2 separate regions of the Homo sapiens genome follow, and region 1 is linked to region 2. Evidence: fine-mapped expression QTL. A gene starts in region 2. The other region holds a variant in brackets. All regions are shown on one strand. Distances are between the middles of the regions.

Evidence for each region. PIP is the estimated chance that this variant, and not a neighbour inherited with it, causes the effect. A credible set is the group of variants that fine-mapping cannot tell apart.
Region 1: its variant is the best candidate, but not a certain one, in a credible set for the expression of PRIM2 in whole blood (TOPMed, PIP 0.87).

Annotation. Positions count from the first base shown.
Region 1 is chr6:57,340,425-57,343,342 of GRCh38, reverse strand. The region is part of intron 5 of PRIM2 (DNA primase subunit 2); the gene reads right to left. Among named protein-coding and RNA genes, the nearest start is that of PRIM2, 24 kb to the right of the region's middle. The variant A/G (reference allele first, on the strand shown) is at 1,196.
Region 2 is chr6:57,315,894-57,318,811 of GRCh38, reverse strand. PRIM2 (DNA primase subunit 2) reads right to left here and starts at 1,182. Exons shown (of 14, transcript NM_000947.5): 1 at 1,111-1,182; 2 at 213-375. The coding sequence starts at 366. RefSeq lists a silencer at 2,048-2,097.

The DNA of each region.
Region 1 (2,918 bases), 25 kb before region 2:
CAATGCATGGGATGTTCATATTTTACATAATAGAAATGGAGTAGGTCATGATAATGAATACACATTCGAAACGAACTATGACAACCCAAACTATACCAATAAACAATAAAAACAACACAGTAAGGGCCAAAATGATCAAAAAACTATGACTATTTAAGGCCAACTTGCAGTATCTCAGAAATCAAGACAGAATACCAAAAGTATTTTAAAATTCAATACACCTAAAACTATTAAATCAACGTAAACTCAATGTTCCAATGTTAACTGGAGAAAAGCCTCCAAAGGCTCCTAATAAATTCATAATTGACATTTTCAATAACAAATGACAAATTAAACTTGAATTCATCCTCACTGAAAAGTAATTACCAACCAAGAATGACATGAAATAATTTCTAAGATAAAAGAAATTAAGGCTTTAAACTAAAAGGGATGAGAAACAAATTTTAGATGTCAGGCTCAGGATAAGAAAAACTACTTTTAAATAAACAGAAGTAATTCAAAGTTTTACGTGTACTTGTTTTTAGTGAGGCAACGAGGTTACCAACTTCACTTGCCTTCACCCAAAAGCCCTCACTTCCCTGAACATAAATAGCAACTGAACACTAGGTCTTTTTAATATGAGGTAGAGTCATCATTTGTGACACACAGAATATTCTTCCACATCTTTAAGAATGCTCATTTTCACTGTCCCTGCCATTCTGTAGTACTCTAATGAAAAGCATCCTACCATTAGACCCACTGGTATTGCAAAGCCAATAAGAAATATTTCTTGACTGTCTTAAGGAGGTTTTAAAAAGCATCCAAGTAAATTAGAAGCTGCTGTCAGACTCTAGACTGCGAGAGCACAGAAACCCTTTGTCTGTAAGGCTGACAGCTGCCAAAGCTGACCTTTCCCTAACTGGCCAACTGAAGAAACATTAATAGAATCTGTTTAACCTTACCCATTCACCTTTAATGTGACCAAGGTTAAGTCAATCAACTCAGCAGTGGGAGATGCAAAATAGTCACCATGGACAGCAATATTTACTCATTGAAACGCCTTAGAAATTTCAGATTTAAAATCCAATTTATTTACATATAGGTCAAAGAATGAAAAATATCAGTTTCCTTTTTGAACACTTCATATTAAGGCTTCCTATACTACATGATAAGGATTCAGAATCTACTATCCACCAGAAACCCAGTATAGACTAAA[A/G]AAGTATCAATGCACTGCCCAAGTCAGTAATAGAACACCAGAAATTAATGATCCCTTTTTATGTACATATTTCTCCATCGAAGGACACAATACAACTCAGGTATAACACTGCATCTCCTCCTAAGGTAAAAATATATTTATTTTACAGAAGTAGATCAACATAAAAGCAACTGCAGCATTGAGGAAACCGAAAAGACAGAGAAATGCACACAAACACAGCACACAAGCACTTTAAGTCCAGGTTGACTCAAAGACATGTGTGCCAACAATCCAGCTTCTGTGACAAACAAGATGGCCCCGTGGCTGCCCACTCCCTGCTGTTTCCTTCCACCTCAACTTATGCAGCAGCACCTGACTTAGGCAGCAGGTCACACATCAGACACCACCTCATGAAACAAATGCTAGTAACTTTTCCCCAAACCTTGCTTTGTCATGAGTCTAAAAGCATCACTGATACCTGACTAGCTATAGCAGTTTTCAAATGCAAACTAAATATTCTAACCAAAGTGATGAAAGTGTGCATGTTCCTATTAATGAAATGATAAAAATTGGGAAAGCCTACAATGAAATGGAAAGAGCTTACAGAGACCTGGGGACAAGCTAATCAACAGCACCTGAATTCAAGTGCCTTAATTACCAGTATCAGATGCCATGGGAGAGTCCATGAAAAAGATGGGAAAAGGTCTCTGCCTGGAAAGTGATTGCAGACTATCACGGGAATGGTTATTCTGTCAAGCCCTCTGCAATACTTTGTTACTCTATCTTCCATGAATCCCCATCAGCCACAAATACTTGATCAAGCTTTACATTCTATGGTTTATATTTCAAAAACATAAGGCATAATGTTTTCTATACTCTATACTAACCTCCACCGACGTTCTAATAAACACCCTAGGAGGACTACCTCTCCATCCTATCCCCCCACTGAGAATCACTGAACTAGAAAAATCAAAATAGTCACACAAGAAGGCAAAGTTACTGCTCCCTTTAGAAGCTGTATAACACCACACTGGGATGTATACATACGGATATTAATCATCACTTCAGCCAATCTTTCAAGTTTATCCAAATTTATGCATCTTACTTTAATGCACAGGTTCATTATAATGCACCTCAAATGATTAGCAAAGTGAAACAGGATATAAATTTATAAATAAATAAAATATGGCAAACAGACTAGAAGCAACTAGAGTAATTTTAAACACCAACACTCTTGTTAAAACTGCATACATTTCCCATAAATTCCTGTTTCCTAAAACAAAAAGACTCAACACCATTTTTTTAAATTATTATTATACTTTAAGTTTTAGGGTACATGTGCACAATGTGCAGGTTTGTTACATATGTATACATGTGCCATGCTGGTGTGCTGCACCCACTAACTCGTCATTTAGCATTAGGTATATCTCCTAATGCTATCCCTCACCCCTACCCCCACCCCACAACAGTCCCCAGAGTGTGATGTTCCCCTTGCTGTGTCCATGTGTTCTCATTGTTCAATTCCCACCTATGAGTGAGAATATGTGGTGTTTGGTTTTTTGTTCTTGTGATAGTTTACTGAGAATGATGATTTCCAATTTCATCCATGTCCCTACAAAGGACATGAACTCATCATTTTTTATGGCTGCATAGTATTCCATGGTGTATATGTGCCACATTTACTTAATCCAGTCTATCATTGTTGGACATTTGGGTTGGTTCCAAGTCTTTGCTATTGTGAATA
Region 2 (2,918 bases):
ATAATATGCATTGTACAATAAATAAATGAATGAGTACCAAACCCTCAACAAATATTTGTTGAATGGATTGCTGAATGAAGGATATGAATTACCTCAATAAATACTTGTTGAATGGATTGCTGAATGAAGGAAATGAATTACCTTCATTCATTCTCACAAAGGGTAAGTGAGCTTCTCAAGAATATATACATTCTAATTTAAATAGTACTTACATTTAACTCTATCAATAGCCAAGTTTTCAAATTCTATTAAAGATATGTTTTCAGAAGGTGGCTGCAAGTAAAACTGAAGGCAATGAGGGTAGGAAGCATTCCTCTGGTCACCTGCCAACCTCAGCTTCCTCCACTTTCTTCCAGAAAACTCCATCTTGGTCACCTTAGAAGGAAGTACACAAAAAGCGTAAAATGATGGAAAACAAAGTTGGGGGAAAAAAAAGAAAAAACACGAAAAAATAATTCCACAAACACAGAAAAAAAATGGATTTGAGGGCATGCACAAAATGTTAGCAGTGGCAATTCCTGGGTGATGTCCTTCTCTCGTTTCCAGATTTTCTACAATACACCTATAATAATTTTGTAATGGGGGTGGGAGAGGCGCTAGAGCAGATGCAGGTGGTGATCCTAATTTTCAGCAACATGAAAGTCAGGTGATGTTGCCTGCTCATTATAGGCCTGTGTGTCACTGTTCTTGGATCTTTACGATCCCAAGAGTTAACATAAGGTTTTACGTGGTCTGCAATCCTGAACTTAGAGGAAAGTGCTGTAGGTTCTGGCTAAATGAGGGTCTTACTTGATGGACTGGGTCCAGTTACTCACTTCCTCTGTTATGACTCTGGGAAACAGAGCAACTGTCTTTCGGAACTCCTTTTCGGGAGCATCCACAAGTGCCTTACAAAAGTTCCATCCCCAACACCCCTCCTCACTCCACTGGCAAACCTATCTCTCCCCAACTCCTCCCTGGTACCTGGGTGTCTGCCCCAAACAACCAACCCGCCAAGTCTGTCCTTCTGCTACTGCTGCCTGCAAAGTGATCCATCTCTCCTTTCTCTCGACTTGCAAGCCTTAATAACAGGATTGCTCTCTGTCCTAAATTCGCGGAAGTTTCCCCTACCTGCAAGAATTCAAACTCGGGAAAACACAAACGGTGGCAGCCACTGTTCCCGGGTGGCGGGAGAGTTCATATGAAACCGGAAGAGGAAGTGACTAGCACAGAAGGCCAGCCCTGCCCCACCTCCCCTTGGCGGGTAGGAGGGGGTTTGGCCTGAGGCTCTGGGCATGCTCAGTGGAGCGCGTCTGGGAATTCAAGGTGTTCCGTCCACCTTGGCAGCTTTAAAGTGTTTGGATGTCAGTGTTTTGGGGATTTTTTTTCCAAATTTTAAGATGCATTTCCTGTATGTGGAGTCGGTAGCTTTAACGGTTGAAACTGGGGTGCTGAATGCTAGTGGCGAAAACTCCCACACGCCGAAAATTGAACCAATGTAACTTCGTCTGGGGACACTAACAAATATTCCCTATATTGAGGAAAATATGGCGCTTTAACCCTCAGGGCTGGCACTCATCACTTTCAATCTGGGGAGGAATGAGGAAAAAAGGCATTAGGATCTTTTTTGCACCTAGCTCACTATTAGGGGCTCTTTTTTTTCCGCTCGTTTAATCTTTCAGCGACCTATAAGGTCCTATAAGATCGTATTACCCCCATTTGGCAGATGAGAAAACAAGTTACAAGATCCTCGTTAGTTTGCCCGTCTACATACAATACATATTTTGAATTTCGTATTGGGCGGCAAGCCCCTACTGGCAGGTTCCACGTTCAATTCGCTCCCCGCTCTCCGGCAATGCCTCGCACAGAGGAAGCGCGCAGCTGAATTATCTGTGGAATGAACTAGAATGAATGAAAGAAGGCACATTCGCAGGAATCGCTCTGCAATCTACAGGAATTAGAAGAACCCAGCCTCGGAGGGAAGGTAGGGTGGAAGAAGATGAAGCACTGGAAATCACGCGGACGTGCCGCTTACTTTCCAGATGTCCGACTGCAGACTCACAAGCGGGGCGTCAGAGCCACCACACCAGTTCTCCGCTGTCTGTAAGATTTTCGAGAACTGGAAATTAACTTCACTCGTGGCCTCTAGGAGGCGTGCCTCGCTTACAAATGTGCTGGAATGAGGCTCCGGTATAGGTAGTCCTTAGGAGATCAAATGAATGCTTTGAAATGTTCACGTTTTTAGAAATGCAAAGTACATTGAAACAATATCAAGCTTCAAAGCATCTACCCAGCCTGGACTAAACTGTGGCTGGCACTGACTTTATATCAGGACCTGTTCTAAGTGGTTTACATATCAACTCATTTTATTATCATAACCACATAAGATAGGTTATTCCCCCCGACCCACCACCAATACCCGAGACAGAGTCTTGTTCTGTCGCCCAGGCTGGAGTGCAGTGGAGCGATCTTGGCTCACTGCAACCTCCGCCTCCGGGATTCAAGCGATTCTCCTGCCTCAGCCTCCCAAATAGCTGGGATTACAGGCGCCTGGCTAATTTTTGTATTTTTAGTAAAGATGGGGTTTCACCATGTTGGCAAGCTGGTCTCGAACTCCTGACCTCGTGATCCGCCCACCTCGGCCTCCCAAAGGTTATTATATTAAACGTATTTTCTAGATACGGAAACTGAAGAACAGAGAAGTTAAATGAAGTCAAAAGGACACAAAATGTCAGAGCCATGTTCAAACCCAGAGAAACTCTCCAGGCCCCACTGTGCTAACGATCTCACTACACCAATTCCAGTAATATGACAGCAGAGCTTCACCTCATTTCTTCCTCTCTGTATTAAATACATAATACAAATACGTAATACAAATACATCACGTGGTCCAAAGAAGACACCTGAAAGCATATAAACTGCCTGAAAAAACCTGCATC